Linked DNA regions of Homo sapiens. The protein of the gene in region 1 purifies or fractionates together with the protein of each later gene. This does not show direct contact. Each region holds a gene or a part of one and is shown in the gene's direction. Other genes may lie near its edges. The genes, in order: MACROH2A2, RBM19, PUM3, IPO9, URB2, CCNT2 and BMS1.

Evidence for each region.
Region 2: the proteins of MACROH2A2 (region 1) and RBM19 purify together in Homo sapiens (affinity purification with mass spectrometry; 2 studies listed by BioGRID and IntAct, with this or other methods). This does not show direct contact.
Region 3: the proteins of MACROH2A2 (region 1) and PUM3 purify together in Homo sapiens (affinity purification with mass spectrometry; 2 studies listed by BioGRID and IntAct, with this or other methods). This does not show direct contact.
Region 4: the proteins of MACROH2A2 (region 1) and IPO9 purify together in Homo sapiens (affinity purification with mass spectrometry; 2 studies listed by BioGRID and IntAct, with this or other methods). This does not show direct contact.
Region 5: the proteins of MACROH2A2 (region 1) and URB2 purify together in Homo sapiens (affinity purification with mass spectrometry; 2 studies listed by BioGRID and IntAct, with this or other methods). This does not show direct contact.
Region 6: the proteins of MACROH2A2 (region 1) and CCNT2 purify together in Homo sapiens (affinity purification with mass spectrometry; 2 studies listed by BioGRID and IntAct, with this or other methods). This does not show direct contact.
Region 7: the proteins of MACROH2A2 (region 1) and BMS1 purify together in Homo sapiens (affinity purification with mass spectrometry; 2 studies listed by BioGRID and IntAct, with this or other methods). This does not show direct contact.

Annotation. Positions count from the first base shown.
Region 1 is NC_000010.11:70,090,846-70,094,345, forward strand, and holds part of MACROH2A2 (core histone macro-H2A.2), read left to right. Parts: intron 1-911; coding exon 912-1,109; intron 1,110-2,889; coding exon 2,890-3,000; intron 3,001-3,500. UniProt on the Homo sapiens protein: Variant histone H2A which replaces conventional H2A in a subset of nucleosomes where it represses transcription. Nucleosomes wrap and compact DNA into chromatin, limiting DNA accessibility to the cellular machineries which require DNA as a template.
Region 2 is NC_000012.12:113,963,190-113,967,732, reverse strand, and holds the start of RBM19 (probable RNA-binding protein 19), read left to right. Parts: upstream 1-1,407; 5' UTR 1,408-1,505; coding exon 1,506-1,541; intron 1,542-4,543. UniProt on the Homo sapiens protein: Plays a role in embryo pre-implantation development.
Region 3 is NC_000009.12:2,823,453-2,827,505, reverse strand, and holds part of PUM3 (pumilio homolog 3), read left to right. Parts: intron 1-354; coding exon 355-433; intron 434-2,690; coding exon 2,691-2,789; intron 2,790-3,671; coding exon 3,672-3,725; intron 3,726-4,053. UniProt on the Homo sapiens protein: Inhibits the poly(ADP-ribosyl)ation activity of PARP1 and the degradation of PARP1 by CASP3 following genotoxic stress. Binds to double-stranded RNA or DNA without sequence specificity. Involved in development of the eye and of primordial germ cells.
Region 4 is NC_000001.11:201,835,296-201,839,348, forward strand, and holds part of IPO9 (importin-9), read left to right. Parts: intron 1-4,053. UniProt on the Homo sapiens protein: Nuclear transport receptor that mediates nuclear import of proteins, such as histones, proteasome and actin. Serves as receptor for nuclear localization signals (NLS) in cargo substrates.
Region 5 is NC_000001.11:229,639,360-229,643,412, forward strand, and holds part of URB2 (unhealthy ribosome biogenesis protein 2 homolog), read left to right. Parts: intron 1-4,053. UniProt on the Homo sapiens protein: Essential for hematopietic stem cell development through the regulation of p53/TP53 pathway.
Region 6 is NC_000002.12:134,938,893-134,942,945, forward strand, and holds part of CCNT2 (cyclin-T2), read left to right. Parts: intron 1-109; coding exon 110-170; intron 171-3,719; coding exon 3,720-3,782; exon of another isoform or gene 3,783-4,053. UniProt on the Homo sapiens protein: Regulatory subunit of the cyclin-dependent kinase pair (CDK9/cyclin T) complex, also called positive transcription elongation factor B (P-TEFB), which is proposed to facilitate the transition from abortive to production elongation by phosphorylating the CTD (carboxy-terminal domain) of the large subunit of RNA polymerase II (RNAP II).
Region 7 is NC_000010.11:42,817,103-42,821,155, forward strand, and holds part of BMS1 (ribosome biogenesis protein BMS1 homolog), read left to right. Parts: intron 1-215; coding exon 216-392; intron 393-3,093; coding exon of another isoform or gene 3,094-3,133; coding exon 3,134-3,322; intron 3,323-3,405; coding exon 3,406-3,586; intron 3,587-3,831; coding exon 3,832-3,890; intron 3,891-4,053. UniProt on the Homo sapiens protein: GTPase required for the synthesis of 40S ribosomal subunits and for processing of pre-ribosomal RNA (pre-rRNA) at sites A0, A1, and A2.

The DNA of each region.
Region 1 (3,500 bases):
GATGCTTGCTATACTTCTGTTGTCACTGACGGGTAACTACCAGTTCATGGGTGAGCCATGGTCGCAGACCATGCTTGGGGTAGTGTTGGTTTCGAATCTGCAGAATATATTAGTGGAGTAGTACGTGTCTGTTCTTTGCAGATAAATTAACTTATATTGATTGGGAGGAGCATGGCCAGACATACTTTACTGATGGAATGTATGTGCAAGCTTGTGGAGACCACTGGTTCATCATTAACTGGGTCTAGTCTTTGCAATGACCTTTGAACATCATTTTCTCAAGCTGCGCTCCCCACATGGGAAGCTTTTTATCCTGTGTTGTGTCTGGAATTCCAGAGCCCTGGGCAACATCCCTGGTTTCAACTTCTGTGTCCCTTCTATTTTGCTTTACTTCGTTTTGCTTTCTGTACAACATCACAGGATGCCTTGTTAACCTACGGAGAAATGCTCTACAACTGAAAGTGGGAAAAGCCAATTAAATGGTGTATTACGCAGTTTCTTTAGGAAAGCGGAGGCCACATTTAACAGTTAGAACCGTATTAAGTCCAGGCCAGGCACAGTGGCCCACGCCTGTAATCCCAGCACTTTGGGAGGCCAAGGCAGGTGGATCACCTGAGGTCAGCCGTTCGAGACCAGCCTGGCCAACGTGGTGAAACCCTGTCTCTACTAAAAATACAAAAATTAGCCGGGGTGGTGGCAGGTGCCTGTAATCCCAGCTGCTCAGGAGGCTGAGGTAAGAGAATTGCTTGAACCTGGAGGCGGAGGCTGCAGTGAGCCAAGATCGCGCCACTGCACTCCAGCCTGGGTGACAGAGTAAGATTCTGTATCAAAAAAAAAAAAAAAAAAGAACTGTATGAAATTGGGAACTAGCAGGCTGTTTGCTACATGAGCGCATGCATTTCTCTCTTCAGCTGCTAAAAGGAGTGACCATCGCCAGTGGAGGCGTCCTGCCCAGAATTCACCCCGAACTGCTGGCCAAAAAGCGAGGGACCAAAGGCAAGTCGGAAACGATCCTCTCCCCACCCCCAGAGAAAAGAGGCAGGAAGGCCACGTCAGGCAAGAAGGGGGGGAAGAAATCCAAGGCTGCCAAACCACGGACGTCCAAAAAGGTAGGCCGAGGCTGCGTGTCCTGGGCCAGGCACTCCCACTGCAATGGTCTGAATGTCTGTGTTCCCCCACAATTCATATGTTGAAACCTAACCCCAGAGGCATAGGATTACAAGGTGTGGGCTTTGAGAGATAACTAGATCATGAGGGCGAGTCCTCACGAATGGGAACAGTCCCCTTATAAAAGAGGCCTGAGGGAGGCAGAGGGACCCTTCTGCCATGTGAGGACACAGCTAGAAAGCGTCATCTACCAGGAAGTGAGCCCTTGCCAGACACAGAACCTGCCTGCGCCAAGGACTTCCTGCCTCCGGAACTATGAGAAACAAGTTTCTGGGCCAGGCACAGTGGCTCATGCCTGTAATCCCAACACTTTGGGAGGCCGAGGCAGGAGGATGGCTTGAGCCTAGGAGTTAGAGGCTGCAGTGAGCCATGATGGCACCACTGCACTCGAGCCTCGGTGACAGCGCAAGACCCTGTCTCTTAAACAAACAAAAAAAAAAGAAAGTGGTTTCTGTTGTTTGTGAGCCAGCCAGTCTATAGCATTTTGTTAGAGCAGCCCAGGCAGACACTAAGACGCTCACAGAACAGGAGGGAAGTTTAAAGATGAGACAATGACTTCGTAGCAGACACCTCTGAAGGACCGAGGACTCTTGCAGCTTGGTGCCGGAAGAAAATGACAAGAATGTACAGGTAAAAGAATAAAGGGCCTTTGAGGTTAGAGCTGAAATGGGTCTTCTCTAGGTTTCCAAACCCTAAGCAGGGATGGTTTTCAGATCCCTTTTACTACCCCCAGCAAAATCTGAAGTGAGCGATGATAGCCAGGAACCTGCATTTTATTTCTCTGCAGAGCTCTGTGTTGCCTTCCAAACAGCCTCTAGTCTCCTGCAGGCATTCCCTGAGTTCCGCCAGTGGAATTTCAGGTGTTTGGCATATACTTGATATACTAGGTGTTTGGGTTAGCTTGATATACTAGGTAGCTTAGCTCAGAGATGCCACTGATAGAATAATGTTTTCCTATGTTGCCCAGTACAGTAACCACTGGTCACATGTGGCTTTTTTTTTTTAAGAGACAGGGGTCTCACTCTGTCACCCAGGCTGGAGTACAGTAATGCAGTGGCGAGATCATAGCTCACTGTAGCCTCAAACTCCTGGGCTCAAGCGACCCTCCTGCCTCAGCCTCCCAAAGCATTGGAATTATAAGTGTGAGCTAAGGCACACAAGCCAAGGCTATTTGGATTTGAATTAAAACTAAATCAAATTTAAAATTCAGCTCCTTGATTGTACCAGCCACATTTCAAGCACTCAGCAACATTATTGAGGATCAAGATGAATATTTCCACGATCACAGAAAGTTCTATTGGACAACCCTACTGTAGAAGTTGTGGATGTTTCATTCCACACTGCCTCTGTGCCCCGAGAAATCCTGGGGAGAAAGAAGGCTAAGCAATGGGCTATCAACGGCCCCACCCAGCTCCGATGCTTGTCGTCGTGAGCTGCAGGCATTGAAATGAGCAAGGACAATGTGCTGGTGCACAGGGGTAGGTGAGGACTGCAGGTATGTGTGAGCCCTTTAACACACTTTCTATTTTGCTATTTTGCGGTACCCTTTTCTTTCCTTATATTGCTGACTTTTGCTCCCCTCCTTCAAGAAACAGCAGAACACATCACCTAACCACTTCCTTTCATATTCAACTTGGTGGCAGCCGTGAGAAGAGCTTAATAAAGGCACCTCAGGCTTTTTCTGGATTGGTTCTCATCTTGCCTTTTGATTTTTACCGACAGTCCAAACCAAAGGACAGCGATAAAGAAGGAACTTCAAATTCCACCTCTGAAGATGGGCCAGGGGATGGATTCACCATTCTGTCTTCTAAGAGCCTTGTTCTGGGACAGAAGGTAACAAAGAGAATTGCCTTGTGCTATATTAAAACACCACTGTATTTTTATAACCTACTGTTTACAAGCAATGATGCCTCCTTTCCTCCCCTGATAATGATTTTCACTGCAGTCTTGAATTATTCATTTTTAAACTAAAGAGCTGTGGCAGTGTCAGCATTGTGAGAGTGAGAATTGTTCTTTTTTGCTGAGAATTGTTAACGCTAACATTGGTCAGACAAGGGTGAGCATGGAAGCTCTTTCTGGTCAGTAGATAGGATGGCATTACTGGTTTTGCTGGGAATTCCCCACACCCCAGTTATTTCTACATCTGCCAAAAAAAAAATCCATAGCTAACTTTCTCAGACAGCTTCTGAGAGGCCCATCTTACATGGTTCAATGTAATTTATCAAAGAAAGAAAATAGAAATATATGTTTCCCAAATATCCTTGGTATTAGAAATGAATTATTTGCCAATAATTCAGTCTGCCTGCCTTCCTAGGCTTTAGAAAGTAAACAAA
Region 2 (4,543 bases), on another chromosome or scaffold:
GAGGTGGGAGGATGGCTTGAGCCTGGGAGGCGGAGGTTGCAGTGAGCTGAGATTGTGCCACTGCACTCCAGTCGGGGTGACAGAGCCCGACCCTGTCTCAAATAAATAAACAGATAAATAAAGTGCTGATTCATGCTGCAACATGGAAGAACTTTGAAAACATTATGCTAAGTGAAAGAAGTCAATTACAAAAGACTACATATTGTATTATTCCATTTACATGAAATGTCCATAACAGACAAATCCATAGAGACGGAAAGTAGATTAGTGGTTATCAGAGGGAAGGGAGAGGGAGGAATTGGAAGGTTATAGCTAAAGGGTGTGGTGTTTCTTTGGGGGTAATGAAAATGTCCTAGCATTGATTGTGGTGATGGCTGCACACCTCTGTAAATATAGTCAGCACCATTGAATTGTGCACTTTAAGTGGGTGAATTGCATGGTTTGTGATAAAGCTGTTAACAATAAGAAGGGGGGACGGAATGTCTTTTAGGTGAAGGAAATTGCAGAAGCTTGGCAGCAACGTCCAGTGCAGCTGAGGCACTGTGGGGAAACAGAAAGGAAATACCGTCATTTAAGAGTGAAAATAGGGGTTTTCATAGGATGTCTCCATCCAAGAGTAGGTACCGAGAATGCTCAGAGAAGCAATAGGAAAATAACATCCCTTTCACGTTCTCACCTCCTTAACCCCTAGCATAATAAAGAATTATTCCCATTTTATAGAAGTAGACACAAAGGCTCAGAGGCCATTTTGGCCAAGATCTCTCAGCTAGAAGATTGGCCAGCTGAGAGTTCCAAACATTAGGAAGGGAGGCAAAATGCTTGTGGGGCTGGGGTTGAAGGCGTAGAGACTCATTGTAGGGCCCTAGGCAGTCCCTAGCTCGAATCTGACTTTCCAATTCATAGTTATAAGACTTTGAGCAAGCTGCTTTACACGCACGATTCCCAGTTTATCTGCCTGCAAAATGAGAGCGTTTATTTCCAACATGTTCATTCCAAGTATTTACACAAAAGGCTCAATACTTGATTTGTGTTGGCTGGCAATCTCTCTAAACTTCACTTTCCCCATTTCTACGAGGAAGGCAAGGGTCCCTAATCTTGCCCCCGTTCTCAGGGGAGTCCTAAGGCTCAATAATAAAAATAAAATAAGAAAAAGGAGAGAACGCGATTGCCCGGTTGGCGCGACCCTTAACACCGAGCTAAACCGGCGCATGTTAGGGACCGGCGCCCCCTGCCGCCTTCTCCGCTGCATTGGCGTCTCACAGAATCCGCCCAAGGCCCTGCGCCTGCGCAAAATGCAAGCGCCCAGGCCCACCCCTTGTGGGGTGTGACCTCCCTGAGTAGTTTTGGATTAGCCACGCCTACTTCCGGACAGGTCAGGCCAAGGTCTCAGCCACGTGACTGTGTTCCGGCTCGGTAAAGATGGCGGCGCCCAGGGCGGTAGCGTGAAACTTGGTGGAAGACGCTGACCAGTCGTGTTGGAATCAAAACAGCGGGGACCCTGCGCCATGTCGCGACTGATCGTGAAGAATCTCCCGAATGGGGTGAGTGCAGAGGCAGGACTTGGGAATCTGAAATGAGACCAGCCGGGAGCTGTGAGGTAGGGAAGAGATGCCTGGAGGTGATCGAAGAATTTTTGCTCTGGGGCAGGACTCCGGGCCAATTCTGAACTCAAAGGGGGCGGGATCCTGGGCTTATCCCCATTTGATCCCGAGGAAAGAGGAATAGTGACTGCTTACGGTTTCACGGCCGGTTGTTTGGTACCTGACTCCTAACACACCTCTTCTCGGGGAGATGACAACTCCCACCTTGTGGCGAATACCCTGCTCCCACAACCTCTTTCATTCGATCACTGTTTTTTAGTTGTTGACCCGGGACATGGTCCGACACTGTATTTATATTCCTCTCCCAGTCTGGAAACTGTTGGGGAAGACATGGGGAATATTAATCTGCGGACCTGCGTTCCAATTCCCACTCCCATCCTTAGGGCAAGTAGGAATACGGAGTGGGTAAAGGGCTTTACAGCATTTATCCAGTAAGTGGGGAGTGGTGACCCAGCCATACTTTTTTGTTTCCCTGGAGCCCAGCGCAGAACCCGACACGTGGTAGGCAAAATAGGTGAATGTACGTAATATTAGATGATTAGATGCGGTGGGCTCGAATGGATCATCCTTTTTTCTCTCTCTCGCTGTTTTTTGTTCTGTTTTGTTTTTTTGTTTTTAAATGGATTACTGCTCCTTCCATCAGGTTAGACAGTGTCTCTTGATGCCTCGCTTTGTGGGATGAGGATTTTTAGCGTAGCTGCACTTCCTTTCCCTCCCAAATTCAGCTTTGTTGTGTTTCAAGTGTAGTTGATTCTCTTATCATTGTTTGTCTTATCTCTTTTTTTTCTCTCTCTTTCATGGCTTTTTTTGGTTTTGTTTTTTGTTTTTTTCTTTTTTTGTTTTTTTTTTTTAAACGGAGTCTGGCTCTGTCTCCCAGGCTGGACTGCGGTGGAGCAATCTCGGCAGTCTCGGCTCACTGCAACTTTTGCCTCCCGGGTTCTAGCGATGCTCCTGCCTCAGCCTCCCAAGTAGCTGGGACTACAGACACGCGCCACCAAGCCCGACTAATTTTTTTATTTTTAGTAGAGACATGGGGTTTCGCCATGTTGGACAAGTTGGTCTCGAACTCCTGACCTCAGGTGATCCACCGCCTCGGCCTCCCAAAGTGCTGGGATTACAGGCGTGAGCCACTGCACCTGGCCCCCATTTCTGTTCTAATGTTGTGAGTTTTTTCCTTTCCTTTTTTTTTTTTCATTTGTCAGGTGGGACAAAGGAACTTTGTAACACACAGTTTTCAAAATTCAAACAGTATAGTAGTGTATAACATGAGTAGCAAAGTCTTTGCTCTGTCCTACCTTCCCTCTCTGTCCAGGAGTAACCATCTTCATTGATTTGTTTTTGGGACTCCTCACATGTATCTCTGTATATTTGAGGAGTGTACTTTCCTCCTTTTGACCTGCCTGCCCCAGTGACTATCTGCTAGGCCTCAACTGTGAAAAATAAGGAATTTAGATCATCTGTTCCTCCTCTCCAGTGTCTGTAATATTCTTGTTTTTAATTATCCTGTTATAATCTCTGAGTAGTATACTTAAAAATATCTATTACTCATCCATCCATCAGGTTAGACATGTCTCTTGATGCCTTGCTTTGTGCGATGAGGATTTTTAGCGTGGCTGCACTTCCTTTTCTTCCCAAATTCAGCTTTGTTGCACTTCACAGTGTAGTTGACTCTCTTATCATTGTTTGTCTTATCTCATGAATGAAAGAATAATAAAAACAAGGGCAGTTGCAGCTGACACTTGGAGAGTTTACTGTGTGCCAGGCACTGTTCCAGGTGCTTTAGGTAAAGTAACATTTAATCCTCACCATATCCCTGTGAGGTAAGTTTTATTTTTACGCCCATTTTAAAGGTAAAGAAACCAAGATACAGCGAGGTACAGGGATTTGCCTGAGGTCACACACTGGTGTAATTTATAGAGCAGGGATTGAATTGAGCAATCTTTAGTTTAGGGATTGAATTGAGGAAATAATTAGTAGTGAGTACTTGTGATATTGCTGACACTGTAGATAGAGGTGGATAAGCCTGTGTCCTTATTTTTAATGGGACTTGCAGGCTAGCAGAAAAGAGAGGCACCAGATCATTACGATGCAAGGTGCATCACTGACATGTGAACCGAGTGCTGTGGGAGCACAGTGAGGGTTGGTTATCTCGTCCATCTAAGGCATCTAAGAAAGGCCTCCTGGAATAGGAGATGATTGAACTGAGAATGAGGAGTTAGCCAGGGCCTGTCTTGGGAAATATCACCCAGAGGGGACAACCAAAGTAAAACCTCGGAAGTGAGAAGGCTGTGAGAAATTTGTCAAAGCGTGGTGCTGAAGAGGTTGGTCAGGGCAGATCTTGAAGAATTGCATGTTTTCCTTTAGGTGCTCGTCCTTGAGACTTTGGTGCCAGAAAGTCACCGAAAGGTTTTTGGCAAAGGAATGATGGATTCAGACTTGAGCCAGGTCTCTCCCAGGCACTGAGGAATTGAATTCACTGTCTTATATTTCTGAATTGAGTCACAAACCTTGATTCTGTAGGCCTTGGGCAGATCATTTATCCCTTATGAGTTTCATTTTCTCTATAAAATGTGGACAAAAATTCCTAACTCACAGTGTGATTGAGATTTTGATTAGATCAGTTAGTAAGAAGCTACCTCAGAAAATGTCATCTTCTGGCTGGACTGCCAAGGCCTCTAGCTTCTTGCATTTTCAAACTTATTTTGGCTGTTCGTGGGGCCCTGAATGTCCCCTCAACTCCACTACCACACACACAAATATCCCAGTATCTGCTTAGAAAACTGAGTTGTGAGGGTAGCCTGGCTGCAGTGAAGATGGTGAGAAGCCAGGAGCCTGTTTTCCATAGTGTGGGGCTTCTTGACCAAATTATAATAATAGTGTGTTAGTTTTTTAGTGCAGCTATAGCAAATTAGCACAAACTTAGTGGCTTAAACAATCCAGAC
Region 3 (4,053 bases), on another chromosome or scaffold:
AAATACATCCACATGTGGATTTCTAATCATTATGTCCAGTGCTGGGGGAAAAAATGTAGATGTCCTTATTTAATAGAGCAGAGCATATTTCAAATGTTGATTTTATGTTTGCCGATTAAATACTAGAAGTTTATACTCTGGTCTTGGTTGTAGATGGCACTAAATCAATTTTACCATCTAAATTTTTGTTTAAGTTTTAGTATTTCTGAAAAATACAGTCTATTTTATGACAAATTGTATTCAGTAAAACCATTTCACTTGTTTAGATTACTTTAGGACTTTGAGATTACCTGTCTTTGTATGACTGTAGTGCCAGATCTGTTGTGTCTTTTTGCTTTTTTTTTCTGTTTTCAGGGAAGCTGTGATTAAGCACTCATTGGTGCATAAAGTATTCTTGGACTTTTTTACCTATGCACCCCCCAAACTCAGATCAGTAAGTTCTTGGTTTTTGTTTTTAAACTAAAACATGGAGGAGGAGCGGTGTAGAAATTTGAAAAACTGCTTTGATGTACGTTGTCTTGTGGAAATTTTAGAGTTGCTTCCTTATTTAGGGAAGATAATTTACTCAACTCCCTTTGAACACGTTTGCTAATTCCATTTAGGTTTTATTCCAGTAAACAATAGAATTGACCCTAGTTTTACTAATCATATTAAATTTTTATATCTTAATTATAATCCAGAGAGTATCCGCTGGCTAACCTAATCTGAAAATTAACTAACTCGTGGAGGAATATTCAAGCATTCGGATAGTTTTAAATTCAACTGTGCTAATACAAAAAAAAAATTAGCTTGGCATTAAAAGGTTAGAGGAGGATATGTTTGTAAAACTAAGTGGACGATGAAAACCTGGACTTTATATCATAGAAGAACAGAGTGAAGGTAAATTGCACTGCCCTTCAAGTCAGTCATGGGAATACAAATGAGAATTCATCATTTAGTTCCCTGAACTTTGCTTGCCTCATCATACAGTGAGCTCATTGTCCATTTGTCCTCATTTTCCAATCACAAGGGATAATGAAAATAATGAGACTGACTTAACAAATAACGCCAGACTATACATTCATTGGAGTTTTGACCCTCTTAAAATTGGCATGCAAAATAATTTCCTGATGGTAGCCACCCACGTAAGCTTATGGTTTGATGACCATAGCAGCACCTTCTGTTTTGGAGATTTTTCTTACTTCCTGAAAAATACAGTATCCCACGGTTCTGAGGCAGGACTATATGCTCAGAAATGACACAATGATTATTTGAATATATTCAGTGGTAGAAAGTATCTTTTTAGTGTTGAATGTTTCAGTAACAGCAAAAAATCATTTGGAACTTAGCATGCGTGTAAAGTAATGAGACAAATTGTCTTTTCTGGTATTGGGGGCATTTTCAAAAGAGACTTAAAAAAAAAAAAACCTTCGGGGAAAATGGAAGCATAATTGGAATATATGCATGGCTTTCCATCTGGATAGCTCTGAAGAGATTCCTAAGTTCAGATATGTTAGTTGAAACTGCTCTTGAGAGTCATCTTGGGAAGGGATTGTTAGATACTTGAGGCTGAAATTGTTTGTTCCTTATTGATGAAATTAGGCACCTACCCTCTCTTTCGTGGCATGAGGCTTTGTATTTATTTAATGTACATTTTTAAATTGGGAATAGACTAAAATGGAGCTCTGCACTTGTTAGTTGCCAGAACTCATTTACATCCTACATGCCTTAGACTTTGAAAATATAGGGCCAGGCACGGTGGCTCACACCTGTAATCCCAGCACTTTGGGAACCCGAGGCGGGCAGATCACAAGGTCAGTAGTTCGAGACCAGCCTGGCCAATATGGTGAAACCCAGTCTCTACTAAAATACAAAAATTAGCCGGGGGTGGTGGCGGGCACCTGTAGCCCCAGCTACTCGGGAGGCTGAGGCAGGAGAATTGCTTGAACCTGGGAGGTGGAGGTTGCAGTAAGCCAAGATGGCACCACTGCACTCCAGCCTGGGTGACAGAGCAAGACTCCGTCTCCAAAAAAAAAAGAAAATGTAAATAAGAAATTATATACATGGAAAATGAAGGCTAAAGGTTAAATTAAGCTAAGCTACCTAGTGAGAAATTAAATGTTTTTTACTAAAGGGTCATTTTATAGGTGAGGTCTTAGTCTAAATGTTAGTATAGAAATTTTTCATGAGGAAATGTTATGTAAGCGTGTTTATGGTAAAGAATGTGATTTTTGGAGATAATCCAGTTATGAACTGAAAAGGGAAGCTTTTCAGTCAAAATGAGTGTTTTGATTCTGTTTATTGCATACAGGTCTCTTTTGGGGAAGAGCATTTTCTTTGTCTCGCTATTCTGTTAAAAGCTCCCTTCTTATCACCACCACCTCCTAGGCTTCTTTTTCTTGGAAAATTATTTAGAATATATTATATTACACATATAGCTTGACCTTTTTTTTAACAGACATTGGTAAAAGTCAGGTATTGTTTTTAATAGATATTGTCTGCCAGCAGTATTTACTGCTCTTGATGGAAAAGAACATTTCTAGAAAGAGCTCGTGTTTCTGTTTGATTGTCTACAAAATGAAATTGTTTGCTACCTGGCACTCTCTTCCTTTCCTTCTCTCTGCATAACTGCCCCCTGTAGACAGACAGATAAAACAGTAGAAAGAAGAAAATAAAGCAGAGCCCTGTTCCTGACAGCATTTGTTCCCTAGGAAATGATTGAAGCCATCCGCGAAGCGGTGGTCTACCTGGCACACACACACGATGGCGCCAGAGTGGCCATGCACTGCCTGTGGCATGGCACGCCCAAGGTAAGTGTGACAGCACTTGGGCATTTAAACTGTACAAGTCAGGGCCATGCTTTATCTGCAGGCTTGACTTAGCTGTCCTTAGACTTTTAACCCCCTTTGGTCTTTGCCCTGTTGTGCATTATCTTCCAAAAGTTGTGCCTTAGAGCCTGATGGGAATGAGCCATCTTCTTTAGGCCTAGTGTTTCTTCTTTCCTCTGCTTTAGTAGAAACCTTGAAGTTTCATTAAAGGATGGGAAGAGATCTATCAAGCAAGTAAACATAATATGTATTTAAGCTTTAGTTTATAGAGGTTTTGGTACCTCCTCTTTTAATGATCATACTGTGGCAGGGGAAAATGGGAAGAGATAACAAACAGCTGGCCACACACATTTGCTCCCATAGGTGTTATGTACTTGAGGGAAAAGGTAAAGATCCTTATTAATCACAGAAGTTTAACAGAAATTATCATTATTTCCTTGGTCAGCATAATTCTGCCTTTAAAAGATAGTTGTACTATATCTACTTTTTTTAATGCAAATTTAATTTTATTCAACAAATGCAGATGAGTACTAACTGTTTGCTAGACTCTGCATTTGAGGACAGTTTAGACCTTGGAAGAAGGATCTGTCTGGTCTCACTGTGAAAGGTGGCTTGCAAACCCTAACCCTAACCCTAACCCTAACCCTAACCCTATCACATACACATCTAAGCTTGTAATAGCTCTAAGCCAACTTCTTTGGTATATTACAGTTTTTTTGTTCTGGCTGTATAACTATTATTTTTACTAATGAAAACATATGCCACTCAAATGAAAACTTAATAAATATTATATTAAAATGTTTAACTACAAAATACCCTTAATACATAACTGAAAATTCAGTGAGACAATCTTTCCTTTTTAAGGACAGGAAAGTGATTGTGAAAACAATGAAGACTTATGTTGAAAAGGTGGCTAATGTAAGTATAATAAAACTACATATTCTAATTATTTTTGATAGTAAGATGAATTCATGTCTATTATAGAAAATTTGGAAAAATTCAGAAAATTACCAAGCAGAAAATTATTGTTTTATTATATTTTTCTTTGCATCTACATGTATTTTCATATTTTATCTACACAAAATGGAAATCATGTCACATGCATTCTTTTCTCCTTTTTTAATTTAACATTGTATTGTGATAGTTCTCTACTTTTATTAGATATTCTTTGAAAACCTGATATTTACTAGCTTTTTTGGTGAATTTGTCCAGTCATGTTAATTAAATATGGGAATTACTGCCTGGA
Region 4 (4,053 bases), on another chromosome or scaffold:
GCTCTCCTTTGGGTTTTCCCTTCTAAACCAAGTTTTAGATAGATAATGTTTTTGCCATATGGGGTGATAAGAGAGAAAGGGGAGCAAGGATAACGAGAGGGAAGCAAAAGACTAAAAGAGAATGAGACTAGAGAATGAAAGAGGGCAGAGGATTTCTTAGGAAGTCAAAGGATGCCATTTTGGATAGGAATAAAGGTATAATTAAGGAGAATCTAGAGTCAGGGTGAAAACCCAGATTAACAGAATGAACTGTCCTTATTTCACCATGGGAAAGGGAACTAGAGAAATTAAATTTCCTAACAAAAATAGCTTTAGAAAACAACTTCATATAGCCCTCTTGGCAGTGTTGCCCTTTGGCTCAACTTCATAGATTGAATGTTAGTTTAATCTTAAACAGTCGTTTCCAAGCAAAGCAAAATAAAGCGGATATTTATGTCTGTGTTTCTTATATTTTCCCTGCCTTCATCATCCCAGAGTAAGTTATTAGGCTATTCTTTCTCATATTTTTAAAGACATTGTGTTAAAGACACCAGGCCGGGCACAGTGTGGCTCACTCCTGTAATCCCAGCACTTTGGGAGGCCGAGGAGGGCGGATCACAAGGTCAGGAGATCAAGACCATCCTGGCTAACATGGTGAAACCCCATCTCTACTAAAAATACAAAAAAATTAGCCAGGCGTGGTGGCGGGCGCCTGTAGTCCCAGCTATTCTGGAGGCTGAGGTAGGAGAATGGCCTGAACCCGGGAGGCAGAGCTTGCAGTGAGCCAAGATCACACCACTGCACTCCAGCCCTCCAGCCTGGGTGACAGAGCAAGACTCCATCTCAAAAAAAAAAAAAAAAAAAAAAAACAGACACCAATCAGTAAAACCAGAAGTCCCCCAACACACACACACGTACTTTTTTTTTAACAAATATACTTAGTTGTATTTCAAAAAATATTGTATCTCTGTTAAGTGAAAAATCTGTAAGTAGGGTTTTACTACGTAACAGAAACCAATGGATAGGAGCAAATGTGTTGATCAGATTTAAAATAAGGCCAAGAGCTTTAGAATTATTTTCTGGCTTTTCCTTCTTTGCATTAGTTTGTTTCTTAGTTTGTTTTTTAATTGAGACAAGGTCTTGCTCTGTCATCCAGGCTGGAGTGCAGTGGTGTGATCATAGCTCACTGCAGCCTCAAACTCCTGGGCTCAAGTGATCCTTCCATGTTAGCCTCCTTAGTAGCTGGGACTACAGGTGTGCATCACCACACCCAGCTAATTTTGCATCGGTTTTATAGCACGGAGTTTACCATCAACATCATACTCCTTGGAAACAATTATTTATATAGCTTTTAAGTAAACTAAAGTATTATGGGTATGACACTCTTAAATGGTGAGTGATATCCTTGTATTTCTAGTAGGTATGTGGTCTAGACAGAATAAATTGGGTTAAGTAAAAGAATTTTGTATTTTCCCTCTTTCATCCCCCTATAACCTAATGCAAATAAGCTCTTTGTCTTTGAATTTTTGAGGCTTTGAAACATGTGGTCATGTTGGACATGTGGTCATAATTTTTGAAACTGTAGGGGTCTGTAGAGAAGGAAATCTGTTCATCTATTTTATTTTAAAATTTGTCTTTAGTTAACAATGATGATGTTATTTGAAGATTTTCTTTGCCATTATATATCTGCTTTTGAGCAAATATATGTTACTTGAACTTTAATGCTGCTTCTTTCATGCGTGAAAGAAATTAGCTTTTAGAAGGAGTCCATCTTAAAATACTTGTTGTAGGTACAGATCCCTTGGCTAACTTGGGTTTTTGGCCCCTACGTTGGTCTTAATCTTCTGATGATCTCTTATTCTCACCATCCCTTCCAGTCTCAGTGATGTGTGAAGCAAGGTGGTTAGTGGAATTTTGTATATGATCTTTGATAGGTTACCAGACATGATTAACTTATTACTGTATTAGAGTGAAGAGCTTCTAGCTACTGTGATCATCACTGGAGTGCATCCTTCTGGCAGGGATATGGAAAAAATATATTCATGCTAAGCTTTTCTCTGAAGAGAAAAGACTTGGAATTCTCTGGTTGATGAGAAAGGACCCTTAAGCTGTGATAGGACCTATGTGTAAAGTTTGCCTGGTCTTCATGCTCTAATGACTCCTGTGATCAGTGCCAGAGTGAACTGATGGAAAATGTGTGGTTCTTTTTCCCTTTTGTGAGCTGTGAGCCTCAGTATTACCCTACAGCTATATGAATATCAGTGCTTTCATTGGAAGGACAGTTGTTCAGATTTGTTTAAGCTTAAAGTCTTAAGTTTCAAACCCTTCTCAAAAAGTCTCATTCCTCAGTATCTTTTCACACTGTATATTGAAGAATTTCTTCATTTTGATCTTGTTTTAGTTTGTCCCTGTAGTAATGATCCAAAAATTATGCTCTTGCTAGGAACATTAAAAGTCCAAATCATAATGACCTATGGAAAAATTATTTAAATCATGCCTTAAAAGAAAATACTAGGCCAGGCACGGGGGCTCATGCCTGTAATCCCAGCACTTTGGGAGGCTGAGGCGGGCGGATCACTTGAGGTTGGGAGTTTGAGACCAGCCTGACCAACATGGAGAAACCACATTTCTACTCAAACTACAAAATTAGCTGGGCGTGGTGGCACATGCCTGTAATCCCAGCCACTCGGGAGGCTGAGGCAGGAGGATCGCTTGAACCCGGGAGGTGGAGGTTGCGGTGAGCTGAGATTGCGCCATTGCACTCCAGTCTGGGCAACAAGAGTGCAACTCTGTCTCAAAAGAAAAAAAAAGGAAATGCTGTTATGTCCCAGATAATTTGTGAATGTGCTTGTAGATTATTGTGAAGGAAGTTACATAAGGCACACCAGAATTGGTTCACCATGTCCAGGGAGGCCAATCCTGGGTGGACAGTGACATTCTAAGCAGACTTGAAGCCATGAAGTCTAAGTATCATCCATTATCACACTAAGTATCTGAACTCAAAGGAATTGTGGATGCCCTTACTAGTTGTCTTTCTCCTTTAAATGGATTTCACATGTGCATTTTAGAGTGCTTTTTTCCATTGAACTGGAACATTGCTATCCAAGAGATGTTCCTGAATTATCTGACTCATCTGTGTTTTAGAATCAGTTCTGATAGTTGACTCCCATATCTTCGGGTTGTAGATACCTGTTGTTTCTTCTCTTGCTACAAATGGGTTTTATAGATTTAACCAGAGTCTGTACTAACCAAATTAATCCTAAGAATTAGAATGGATTGCAGTATCTGTAGGGGGATTGTGCAAGTTTCAAGTGTTTGCTTGTGATTTAATCATTTAATAACTCTTTCAGAAAGAATGTGGCTTCTTCTGTGGCGGTCATGCCAAAAAAAAAAATCCACTTTCCTGAGTGAAACAATAGGTGCCATAGGAGTGGATCAAAAACTGCAGCTTAAAGGCATAATAAGAATGAATTAAGAATCTAAGAATTCAGTAAAACAGGACATAAAATATAAAAATCAATAGCTTTCACATACACAAACCATAAAAGGTTAGAGGACGTAATGGTTTTTTAAAAACCAAAACCAATTTACAGTATCAACAAAAAAGTAAATGCTTAGGAAATGTGTAAGAACCTATTAGAGGAAACTTTTTTTTTTTTTTTTGAGATGGAGCCTTGCTGTGTCACCCAGGCTGGAGTGCAGTGGCATGATCTTGGCTCACTGCAACCTCCGCCTCCTGGATTCAAGCGATTCTCCTGCCTCAGCCTCCCAAGTAGCTGGGACTACAGGCGCCCGCCACCACGCCCGGCTAATTTTTGTATTTTTAGTAGAGATGGGGTTTCACCATGTTGGCCAAGCTGGTCTCGAACTCCTAACCTCAGGTGATCCACCTGCCTTGTCCTCCCAAAGTGTTGGGATTACAGGCGTGAGCCACTGCGCCCAGCCTAGAGGAAACTTTTTGAGACAAGATTTTGCTGTGTCACCCAGGCTGGAGTGCAGTGGCTCAGTCTCAGCTCACTGCAACATCTGCCTCCCAGGCCCAAGTGATTCTCGTGCCTCAGCCTCCCAAGTAGC
Region 5 (4,053 bases), on another chromosome or scaffold:
AGTCTCACTCTGTCTACCAGGATGGAGTGCAGTGGTGCAATCTCAGCTCACTGCAAGCTCCGCTTCCCGGGTTCATGCCATTCTCCTGCCTCAGCCTCCCAAGTAACTGGGACTACTGGCACCCGCCACCACGCCCGGCTAATTTTTTTGTATTTTTTAGTAAAGACAGGGTTTCACCATGTTAGCCAGGATGGTCTCGATATCCTGACCTCATTATCCGCCCACCTCAGCCTCCCAAAGTACTGGGATTACAGGCGTGAGCCACCATGTCCAGCCAAATCACTTAATTTCCAAAGAGCCTCTTACAGTTCCTTGAGGACAGGACTGTGCCTTCCTTAGTTCACCCCTGTCCCCCCACCATATTAGGGTGCTGCCAGGTGCAAGTGCTCACTGGACCAAGGCTAACCTTCAATGTCATCAAAGTGTTTTAGTCTGAAGGCAGCCTTCCAAGCAGCAAACTAGGACCTCGTACACAGCCTCGAAGCAAGAGAGCTCATGTCTTCCTGCACAGAGTCGACCTTTACAGCCCCCCTGGTGAAAGGTTAATGGGTTACTATGCAGCCGTTAAAAATATAATTATGAAAACTATTATGAAGACAAGGGCTAGAAATATCTAGAAAATATTAAGCAAAAAAAGTACAGTATGAAATGTTAAATATGCCACAATTACAGCTATATAAGATATACATGCGTGCAGACAAAGGCTAGAAACCCATCCAAAAATTAAAATAATTATTGTATTAACATGCATGTATTAACATGCATTGTATTATTGCATTAACATGTTGTGATTGTTGCTATTTTCTTATTTTGTACACTTTAATGTTGCATTTTAATAAGAATAAATCAAAATACTTTTCTATGATTTAATTAAATATGCCATAAGCAGGGGATAGATTATAATGTTTTTGGAGGCCCATTTAGAGTTTGTTGAGGTTTTCCTCTACAGTGAAGGATGATTAAGATTTGTTACCTTTATTAGGGTATACAAATAAAACACACTTTTACTCCTCCCAAACAAACAGTTAATGGAAGAGATTTCTTGTTTCAAGATGGCACACATCACAGTTGTGGGGGGTCTTTTCTTTTTTGTTTTGGTGGTAACGAAAGGGCTGGGGTCAGGTCAGTCTTTTGAGGTGAGGTCTGGAAGTCAGCCGAATCTGACCCTCGTTAATGTCACATTAACGTCTGTGTTAAGCACACCTTAACCTCTGTGTTTCTGGGTGGAGAAGCTGTGACGGGTGGGGCCACGGGCGTGCCTTTCGGTACGTGAGGGTTAAATGGGTTCTCGCAGAAAGTAAAGCCATCTGGTCTGCCTGTGCCAGTGCCAGAACTGAAGTGCCATGGGCCAAATCACGCTGCTGTTGTCTCCCTTTCAGTAACCTGTCTCTGGCTGGATTGTGGATTAACTGAAAGGCTTTGATATTACATTGTTCTGTCTTATTGTGTTAGGGTCTCTTTTAGCGAATGGTGTTCACCTTCTTAATGGGGGCTAAAATAGAGTCTTTTATTAAGCCTAATTACAGTGTTCTAAGTGACTGGCCCAAGAAATGGCAGCTGGTGGTCTGAAGCTCTGCCCTGTGCCCCTTAGCTAAAGAGAATATTGTGTCCTCCTTTTCCTCTTCAACCCTACTGAGTTGAGGCAATCTCTTTTTTTTTTTTTTTTTTTTTGAGACAGAGTCTCATTCTGTCACCTAGGCTGGAGTACAGTGGCCCGGTCTCGGCTCACTGCAACCTCCGCCTCCCGGCTTTGAGCGATTCCCATGCCTCGGCCTCCTGAGTAGCTTGGATTACAGGCATGCACCACCATGCCCGGCTAATTGTTGTATTTTTAGTAGAGATGGGGTTTTACCGTGTTGGCCAGGCTGGTCTCGAACTCCTGACCTTAAGTGGTCTGCCTGCCTCAGCCTCCGAAAGTGCTGGGATTACAGGCATAAGCCACCGTGCCTGGCCAAGTTGAGGCAGTCTTTAAGTCCTAAGTGTATGTCCCTGGACTGCTGGTACCTTATTTCCTCAGGGACAGAGCACCTCGGTCACAGTGTGGTCAGGGTTGGGCAAGGCCAGCCTGCCACACTGTGCCCTCAGCTCATGGGCCTGGGGTGTTGCTGTGTCCAGGCCTCTTCCACCTGAGCTGTTAGATACTGTCCAGGGAAGTGCCAGAGTTGTGAGTGCTCTGGAAGAAATGCCAAGTGAGGAGTGGCCCAAGGCTTTGGGCAGGGAGAGGGAGTGTGAAGAGGCGCCGTGCAGGTGCCCCAGCCATGGAGTTCTCCCTGTGTCCTTAAGGATGGCTCAGAGGTGGGCTTTTGTAAAGAATGCCTTCTGACAGCAGAACAGAGGACCTGAATTCAATTACAGAAATCAACACTTCTAAAAATGCTTCTTGGCTGGGAGTGGTGGCTGGCATCTGTAATCCTGCACTTAGGGAGGCTGAGCCAAGAGATCACTTGAGGCCAGGAGTTTGAGACCAACCTGGGTGAAAAAGCAAAACCCCATCTCTACAAAAAGCCGGTGTGGGTAGCATGCACCTGTGGTCCCAACTACTCCGAAGGCTGAGGCGAGAGGACCCCTTGAGCCCAAGAGGTCGAGGCTGCAGTGATCCATGATTGTGCCACTGCACTCCAGCCTGGGTGATGGAGTGAGACCCTGTCTCCAGAAACATAAAAAAAACCAATTAAAATGCTTGTATGTTTGAGGCTGTATCCTGCTCTGGAGATGAGTGAGGTGTTGATTTTGGCCTATGTAATTAAGTAAACAGACATTCGCACAAATCACAGGGTAAAGGTGGGGGAGACGCCATAAAGCGAACCAGAGCGATGGGACTCGGTGGAGAGGCCACATACAGGCCACGTGTGAGTGGCCCTTGAAGGGTAGCTAGGGCAGGTGGAAATGGGAGCCTTTCATGTGAGGGCACTATGTTGTGAGCTCTGTGGCCTTTTTTTGTTTGCCAGCCACAGGAGTTGGTGCTGTTATGCCCACTTCACTGATGAGGGAGTTGAGGTTCAGAGAGATCATGGGTCCAGGGTTTTACAGCTTGTGGGAGACTTGGACCTAGGTCTTTACCTCTCAAAAGTCCCCTTTCCCCCAGTGCTGTAAATAGTAAGCAAAGACAGGAAAGCAGGAAGGTATTCTGGCAATGTGGAATAGGCAGATGGGGCTGAAGCGCTGGCTGGAAAGATGACCTGGGGCCAGACGATAAAGGGCCTTGAGTGCCCTGGCTTTGGGCGTTATTGTGAAACCGTGGGCCCAAGGACACTGGGGATGATGGGGAACAGCTGGGTGACTTCCTGACAGTCATCCAGGCCTGAAAAGTGGAGCTCTCTTAGTCTTTCTGACTTTCCCATCTGTTTAAAATACCACCTACTCTTGCAGCCCTACCGATTTTATAAAGAAACACAAAGAAAATAGAGAAATAAAATACAGTTGACCCTTGAACAACATAGGGGTTAAGGCACCAACCCCCAGCACAGTAAAAAATTCCGTGTATATCCTTCTGATACAATTCTATTAAAAAAATCTTGTATTACTTTTGACTCTCTAGAAACTAAACTACTGATAGCCTACTGTTGACCAAAGCCTTGCTGAACATAAACAGTCGATTACCACGTATTTTGTGTATGTATTTATGTATTATATTCTTACAATCAAGTAAGCTAGAGAAAAGAAGATGTTATTAAGAAAATAACAAGGAAGGGAAAATGTATTTGCCATTCATTAAGTGAAGTAGGTTATCATCAAGGTCTTCATCCTCTTCATCCTCACACTGAGTAGGTTGAGGAGGAGGAAGAGGAGGGGTTGGTCTTGCAGTCTCAGGGGTGCTAGAGGCAGAAGAAAACCCATGTATAAGTGGATCCATGCAGTTCAAACATTGTTCAAGGGTCAACCGCACAAAGCAATAATCACTGTCTTCTGTGGTTCAGGTTTACCTCCTAAGCATGGCTGTCGTCTTCTGTGTTTGTGTGTGTACACACAATGCACAGGCGTAGCTGTGCGTGTGAGAGCATGGCATCACAGTAACTACGTGTACCTGCTTTTTCCACCAGTGCTTATATCACC
Region 6 (4,053 bases), on another chromosome or scaffold:
ACTGTGGTTCTTTTGTAATCAACCTGTAATTCTCACAAGATGTAACAGTCATGCAGTCTAGTAATGTTATTTTTATTTTAATCAATTTGATAATATTTTTATCTGACAGGCTTACCTTCAACAGACTCAAGAACTGGTTATACTTGAAACCATAATGCTACAAACTCTAGGTACGTACTTACATCAGATAATGGCTTTTTGTGTGTATTTCACTAAAGCATTCTAAATAAGTGAAAAGATTTCTGAAATAATTGTATTATTGAAGAAAGTTATTTTAAAACAGGTTTTAGACAGAATAAGGTTGCCTGGTTATAAGGAAATTACTTTTCTAGAATTTAATTTCATTTGGCATAATTAAATTGAATGGTAAACGTACCCTTCAGTATGATTTCTTAGGTTTTCAGGTAGTTGAAGTACTGTGCTTCACTCTGGATTTGCACTGGAGAGTAAAATGGTCCTTTAGGGTTGTTTTATATGATTATGATGTATACAAACCTACACAGCAATCCTTATTCTCCTCGAGCTGCCAGTCAGTATTTTATGAGTATATCACCTTTTTTATTTTATTTATTTATTTATTTATTTATTTTTAAGACGGAGTCTCGCTCTGTCGCCCAGGCTGGAGTGCAGTGGTGCCATCTCGGCTCACTGCAACCTCTGCCTCCTGGGTTCAAGCAATTCTCCTGCCTCAGCCTCCCGAGTAGCTGGGACTACAGGTGCATACTGCCACACCTGGTTATTTTTTTGTAATTTAGTAGAGACGGGGTTTCACCGTGTTGCCCAGGCTGGACATGAACTCCTGAGCTCAGGGAATCTGCCCACTTTGGCCTCCCAAAGTGCTGGGATTACAGGTGTGCGTCACCACGCCCGGCCTATCATATGATTTTTAATGTGACATAGTAATTATTTAAATGTTGGTCATCCTTTTCTAAAGGTTATATCTTTGTATGCAAGTTCATTTACTGTCACCATTCACCTTACTCAATTTACTGAAATTGAGGCCTAAGAAAGTGATGGCTTATCTAAAGTCATATGTTAGTTCTGGAAGAACCTACTAGGATGTGGTAGGAAGAACATGGGCTTTGGGGAGATCCAAGTTAAAATCTGTAGGCCTCTGACTTGCTTTGTAAACTTGGGCAAAAGTTCCTTTACCTGTTGTACCTCCATTCTGTAGAGGTGGAATAGTATCTGAGTCATATCGTGAATTTGTCATTTTTTTAATTTCATTACTCCATTCCCAGATGTTGAATAGAAGTGCGATAAATCAGTCACAATTTCCCATTGTGACAGACTCTTCGTTACAAAACTAGTTTGTGTGAAATACATATGCAGTTGACCCTCAAACAGCACGGGTTTGAACTCCATGGGTCTACATGGATTTTTTTCAATAAATAATATTGGAAAATTGGGAATTTGCAACAATTTGAAAAAACTTGTAGGTGAGCTGTAGCCTAGAAATATTGAAAAAATTGGATATGTCATGAATGCATAAACTATATATAGATATTAGTCTATTTTATCATTTACTGCCATAAAATATACATAAATCTATTTTTAAAAGATAAAAATTTTAAAAAGTTAGGCACACAAACAGACAATATGTGGCTCTATTCGCAGTTAAGAGAAAATGTAAATAAACAAATGTAAAGGTACATAAAATTAATTTTAATAATACGTAACTGTACTGCTGTGATAATTTTGTAGCCACCTCCTGTTGCTATTGCAGTGAGCTCACATGTTATGAGTATCCACGTAAAATGCTGTGTGACACCTGTCATCTCTGAACAGTTTGTCTCTCCAGTAAATTACATATTGCGGTAAAAGAGGTTCTGGCATATTTTTACCGTATTTAGTGCGATACTGGAAACTTGGATTAATACCATGGGACCCATACAAAGTGCCTCTAGTGATGCCAGAAGTGCTCCCAAGAAGCAGATGAAAGTTGTGATGTTACAAAAAAAAGTTGAATTGTTTGATATGTACTGTAGATTGAGGTCTGTAGCTACAGTTGCCCATTTCAAGATAAATGAATCCAGTGTAAGGTTCAGTGTGAAAGAAGAAAAAGACATTTGTGAAGTCATCGCTGCAGCTATACCAGCAGGCACAAAAACCTTGCACTTTATCTCATATTGAAAATGAAGCTTTTATGTGAATGCAGGATTGCTGTAAGAAAGGCATACCTATGGACTCTAATATGATTGGAGAGAAGCTTAAAGCAAAGGGAAGGTGAAGGATCTAAAGCCAGAGAATTTAATGCCAGCGAAAGACAGAAATTGTGGTGTATTTCTGTAAAGTTACACCAGGTGTTGCCTGCCTCTCCTGCCTCCTCTTTTGTGTCTTCCAACCTGAGACAGTAAGACCAACCCCTCTTCCTCAGCCTACTCTGTATGGAGACCTTTATGATGATCCACTTCCACTTAATACTAGTAAATACATTTTCTCTTCCTTATGATTTTCTTAATAGTTTCTTTAGCTTACTGTGTTGTAAAAATACAGTATATGATACATATACAAAATATGTGTTGATTAACTGTTTATGTTACCAGTAAGGCTTCAGCGGTAAGCAGGTTCTGATCAACGATAGTTAAGTCTTAGGGGAGTACTTGGATTTTCGACTGCATGGGGATCGGCACCCCTAGGCCCTGCGTTGTTCAGAGGTCAGCTGTAAATTATTTGAAGTTTCTATAAAATAAAAAGATACCAAAAAAGTGAGGGTCTTATTTCTTCCAAATCCAATGATTTAGCATGTTATTGTTTTACTATACAAAATTATATAAATTTCATTTAAGTAAAAAATTGAAAATGAAAAATCATAAATCATTATAAAATATTTAGTTGTTATATAAAATCGTAATGTAATATCCATATTGTTTATGACATATTCTTAAGCACAGAGAATGAAAAGTGTTATTTTAAGGGGAACATTAGAATTTAGAAGATATGCCTCTATGGCTTTAAAGTATTCTGCATATTTAATTACAGTAGAACTATATATAGACCACACAACAACTTTATAAATCTAGATTACCCATTTGTTAGGATTTTATTTACTTACTGCTTCTGAAGACAACCAAATGTGATCTTCACTTTTAATAAAAACAGAAACCCTGCCACACCTAAGGGTTGATTGCACGTTGATAGCTTTTAAACATTTCATCTTTGGTATTAGAAACAGTAGTTTAAGCAGTCATGAGACCTCTATGGTTTGTCATATGATTTTGATTATTAATGAAGTATGGTTATAAGGTAACTGGTTGAAACCCTTTGATCTAGAGTGCCGTATCATTTAAAAGCTCGTTTCTACCACTGTGGCCCAACAGTTATGTTTATGAAAACTGCACTTTTCATGTCTTCTGAAAGAAAGCTTTGGAATATTAAGAAAGATATTACGTAGTTGAATTCCGTCCTTAAATTGTGGGACCAGCTTAACAGTTGTATTTGCCAGGAATTTAATTTGTTTTTAAGATAATCCCGAATCATTTATAATTCAGAATTTTGAATAAATTTACCCTTGGTCTTTTAACTTTATTTTCATAATTGAGACATTGTATTTGAAAAATTATATCTTGTCATTGGAAAAGTAATGAGAATGTCAGTGATGAGAAACTTATAACTTTGGATTTTTCTTAATAATGAAGAATATATTATACGTTTATGGCATTTCTCAGGCAAGTACTGTAGTGGTAAGAGATTGGAAAAAAAAGTGCTTATCATTTCAGGTTTTGAGATCACCATTGAACACCCACACACAGATGTGGTGAAATGTACCCAGTTAGTAAGAGGTAGGTGATCCTTGAAACTTTTAAGATAAGTATTAATGCTTTTTATTATCTGTAATTGATTTGGGTGCTATTTTGTTTTTCTAGCCTTTTGTTAGGTTTCATTAAAATTAGGGAGAAATGTCATTTTTTAAGCATTACTTTTTAGTGTTCTACATCTACTTCTATTTGTGATTCTACCTGGTATGTTAGCTTCCTTTAAACATAGGTAAGAATCTCATTTCACTAAAACTCCGGAGGGCTTCCAAGTATTAGGACTCTATCCATCCCCCAT
Region 7 (4,053 bases), about 27 Mb from region 1:
GGATTAGCAGCTAATTGTAATGCAGATGTAACCATTTCCTGTAGCAGTACCATGTTATTCAGAGACAAAGGTTGTGTTGTGTTTTCTTTTGTTTTATTGATAATGATAACAGATTTTTGCTAAGATTCTTGTTTAAATAGAACTTTAAAAAAGCTAATGTTTAAAGAAAAGACCTTCATAAACATACACAAAATTTTTTCTTCTGGAAATTTAAGAATGAAGATATAGAGAAAGAAGTTAAGGAAGAAATTGACCCCGACGAAGAAGAAAGTGCCAAGAAAAAGCATTTGGATAAGAAGAGAAAATTGAAGGAGATGTTTGATGCAGAATATGATGAAGGAGAAAGCACATATTTTGATGATCTTAAAGGAGAAATGCAGAAACAAGCACAGGTGAGAAACCTCAGTTCCTCTCAGCCCCTTGTCAAGACTATCATATAGCGCAGGAATCCCTGACTTTGTTTGGGTCCCTACGTCCTATCCTGCTTCTGTGTATCCTGCTTCTGTGCCTTTCATTCGGACTCCTGGGTAGAGATGCATGTGAGTGTGTTTATTCATGCAGTGAGCTCATTGTTTCTGCAGTCAGAGGGTCACCAGAAAAAGATCCATACCTATTTTGTAACAAGAATTAGGAAACAGAAATGACTGAGACATGGTCTCTACTTTTGAGACATGGTCTTACAATGTAGTGATCTGAGACAGTGTGTTCATTTCAGTGCAAGCATTGGCGGCCTATTCCAATCGCTGCTCCCTGATTTGAATGGCAGGTGATCAGTGGCCCCTGTGGCTTATAGACACACCAGAGCTCCCAGGGGAAGTGCTCTGAAAACTCATCCTGGTCAGAGTTCAGAAGGACATGTGGAGTATAAGGTCAGATGCAGAAATAAAGGGAGATGGTGTGGCCCTCCTGCCTGGGGATGCTGAGCAGGTTGCTGGAGGCGGTGATCTCACTCTGAAGGAGACAGACACAGAAACGTGTGTACAGTTGATGGTGAGCATCTGAGTTGCGTCTTGTTAGTGAGGCCAGGAGTGCCTGTGTAAGCTGGAACAGATTAGGTATATGATTTGTGAAACGGAGTTTCATCCTAGGTCTTCATCTAGTCAAAGGACTATTTCCTGATTAGGCATTAGCTTAGTGGTTGCTAGTCTGTGTTGACCTTTGAAAGGCATGACTAGGCTAACTCTGAAGTTTTTGCTTCACACCATTTACAATTTAAAATTACCTAGAGCCTTGTGGGCCATTGGAAAAGACTGAATGTTTCACTCTGAAATGGGAGTCCTTGGAGGGTTTTGAGCAGAGGAGAGGTAATCAGATCACTCTGCCAAGAGATCAGTCGGGTGGCACAAACCAGAAGGCTGGCAGTGGAGATGAGAGAAAGAGTCAAACCCGGATAGACTTTATTTGGAAGCTGGGTCAGTAGGATTTCCTGGTGGACTGAATGTGGGGTGTGTGAGAGGAAATGAGGATGTCGACTGGAAGTTCCTGGAAGGACGGGTTGTTGTAAGTTAGATAGGAAACCCTCTGCAGATGCAGTTTTGGGAAGATGATGTTTGGTTCGGCTGGGTATCATGCAGACAAGTGAAATGTCAGGTCTGGAGAGAGGTCTGGCCAGGGACTTAGATGTAGATGCCCTCAGCATGTAGATGCCACTTAACGCTGTGAGGTGGCCGGGAGTGAGTGCAGAGTGAGTGGGAGGAGCAAGACTGGCATGGGCGAGATGGGGCGATTGTGGCCGTGAGTCCTGAGCAGTGCCTAGGAGGGAGAAGCAGTGTGAGCATGCAGGCACACAGGAGGCCAGTTGTACATGGAGGCGAAGCATTGTTCAGATCCTGCTGCCATGTTAACTACGGTGAAGGCAGAGTTCACCACTGGAGGAGTCCTTCAGCGTGGAGGCCTTCAGCAATCTTGGCAAGCACCAATTTTCATGGATGTAGGAGAATGGGAGCAGAGGAACTGGAGGCTGCAACTGCAGAAAACTTTTGTGGGGTTTTGCTGCAGAGAGAAGCAGAGAAATGAAGCCGTTGTTGGTGGAAGAAGTGGAATCAAAAGGTTTTGAGATAAGAGAGAGAACAGAGGGAAGAGCTGTTGGAATAAAGTCCAGGAAGAGTGGATGGTGTCTAGTGAGCAAGTGATGTGTGGCCCTGAGTAGAGGCATGGACAAATATTCTGTGCCTGAGCTGCCTGTAGAACTTTCTGTGATCATCGAGATGCACGTCAGTGCTTCCCAATATTGTAACACTGGCCGCAGGTTGATATGGACCACTTCCAGTGTGACTAGTGTGATTGAGGAACTGCATTTTAAATATTATGTAATTGTAATTAATTTTAATGTAAATAGCCACTCATAGCTCCCCTATGGGCCAGGTCAGAGCTCTGATAAGGCTGGATATGGGAGGAAACCCTGGTAGAGGGCTGACCGTGGAGGTTCTTTTGGTTTTGGAGTGAATCAGGAAACAGCCATCAGCTGAGTGAAGGTGAGGGTGGTGGTGGGTGTTTGAAGACAAGGGAAAAGTGTGAAAGAATTGTTCAGAAAGGAAAGAAAGAAGATGTGGACTGGGGACGTTTCCAGTGTTCGGGCATGCAGGGCTCCACAGTTATCTACATTTGCTGTCCCTTGGAGCAGGAGAGAAGAAAACGGTTGGGACATATTCTGAGCAGACTGTAGAGGTAAAATATGTAGGTCTTTTTTTTTGGTTTTTTGTTTTTTGAGATGGAATCTCGCTCTATTGCCCAGGCTGGAGTGCAGTGGCACGATCTCGACTCACTGCAACCTCCGTCTCCCGGGTTCAAGCAATTCTCTCACCTCTGCCTCCTGAGTAGCTGGGACTACAGGCACGCACCACCACGCCCAGCTGATTTTGGTATTTTTAGTAGAGACGGGGTTTCACCATGTTGGCGAGGCTGGTTTCAAACTCCTGACCTCATGTGATCTGCCCACCTCGGCCTCCCAAAGTGCTGGGATTACAGGCGTGAGCCACTGTACCTGGCCAAATGTGTAGTATTTTTAATAGGGTAAAGCCTACATAATTCTGTCCACAGTTCCTTTACTTAGAAATTGCTCATTTGTTCATGTTAATCTTATGTTTATTACAGATAACAGCATACAGGTTTTTTTATTCCCCATCATGTACAGCTGAATCGCGCAGAATTTGAAGATCAAGATGATGAAGCCAGAGTTCAGTATGAGGGTTTTCGACCTGGGATGTACGTCCGCATTGAGATTGAAAATGTTCCCTGTGAATTTGTGCAGAACTTTGACCCCCATTACCCCATTATCCTGGGTGGCTTGGGCAACAGTGAGGGAAATGTTGGCTACGTGCAGGTGGGTCCCTTTGCTACATATTTGGTGCCTGAGGCTCTGTGGATTTCCCCTCCATCAATCATCTTACCCTCTCGTCCCCTCAGATGCGTCTGAAGAAACATCGCTGGTATAAGAAAATCCTCAAGTCCCGAGATCCAATCATATTTTCTGTAGGGTGGAGGAGGTTTCAGACCATCCCACTGTATTATATCGAAGACCACAATGGAAGACAAAGGCTTCTAAAGTATACCCCACAGCACATGCATTGCGGAGCAGCCTTTTGGGGTAAAATATGATTACAATAACTTGCCTGTTGCCAAGATTAAACCTTACAGGCTGCGTTATTATAGCTTTGTGCTTTTCTTTCATAAAATTCCACTCCTAAGATTTTTCTCTTTTCTGGGAGCGGGGAGGTGGTTTGGAGTATATATGTAAATCTATATCCAAATCTAAATGTCCATATCCAGTATGTTAAACTAGAATCTAAAATTTGTGGTTCGCTATATTTCTTTTTTTCCTTTTCCTTTAAGGCCCTATCACTCCACAGGGAACTGGTTTCTTGGCAATACAGTCTGTCAGTGGCATAATGGTAACTATCTTGGATGATTTCTTTTACAGATTGGTTTGAGAAATATATCCTGGGTGTGGGTTATTATGTACATGAGACTTTAAGTTGAAAATTACTCATTTTTATTAATACAAAGTAAATTTCCCTTTGCTTTTAATCTTCCTACATCGTTTTCAGTAGGGTG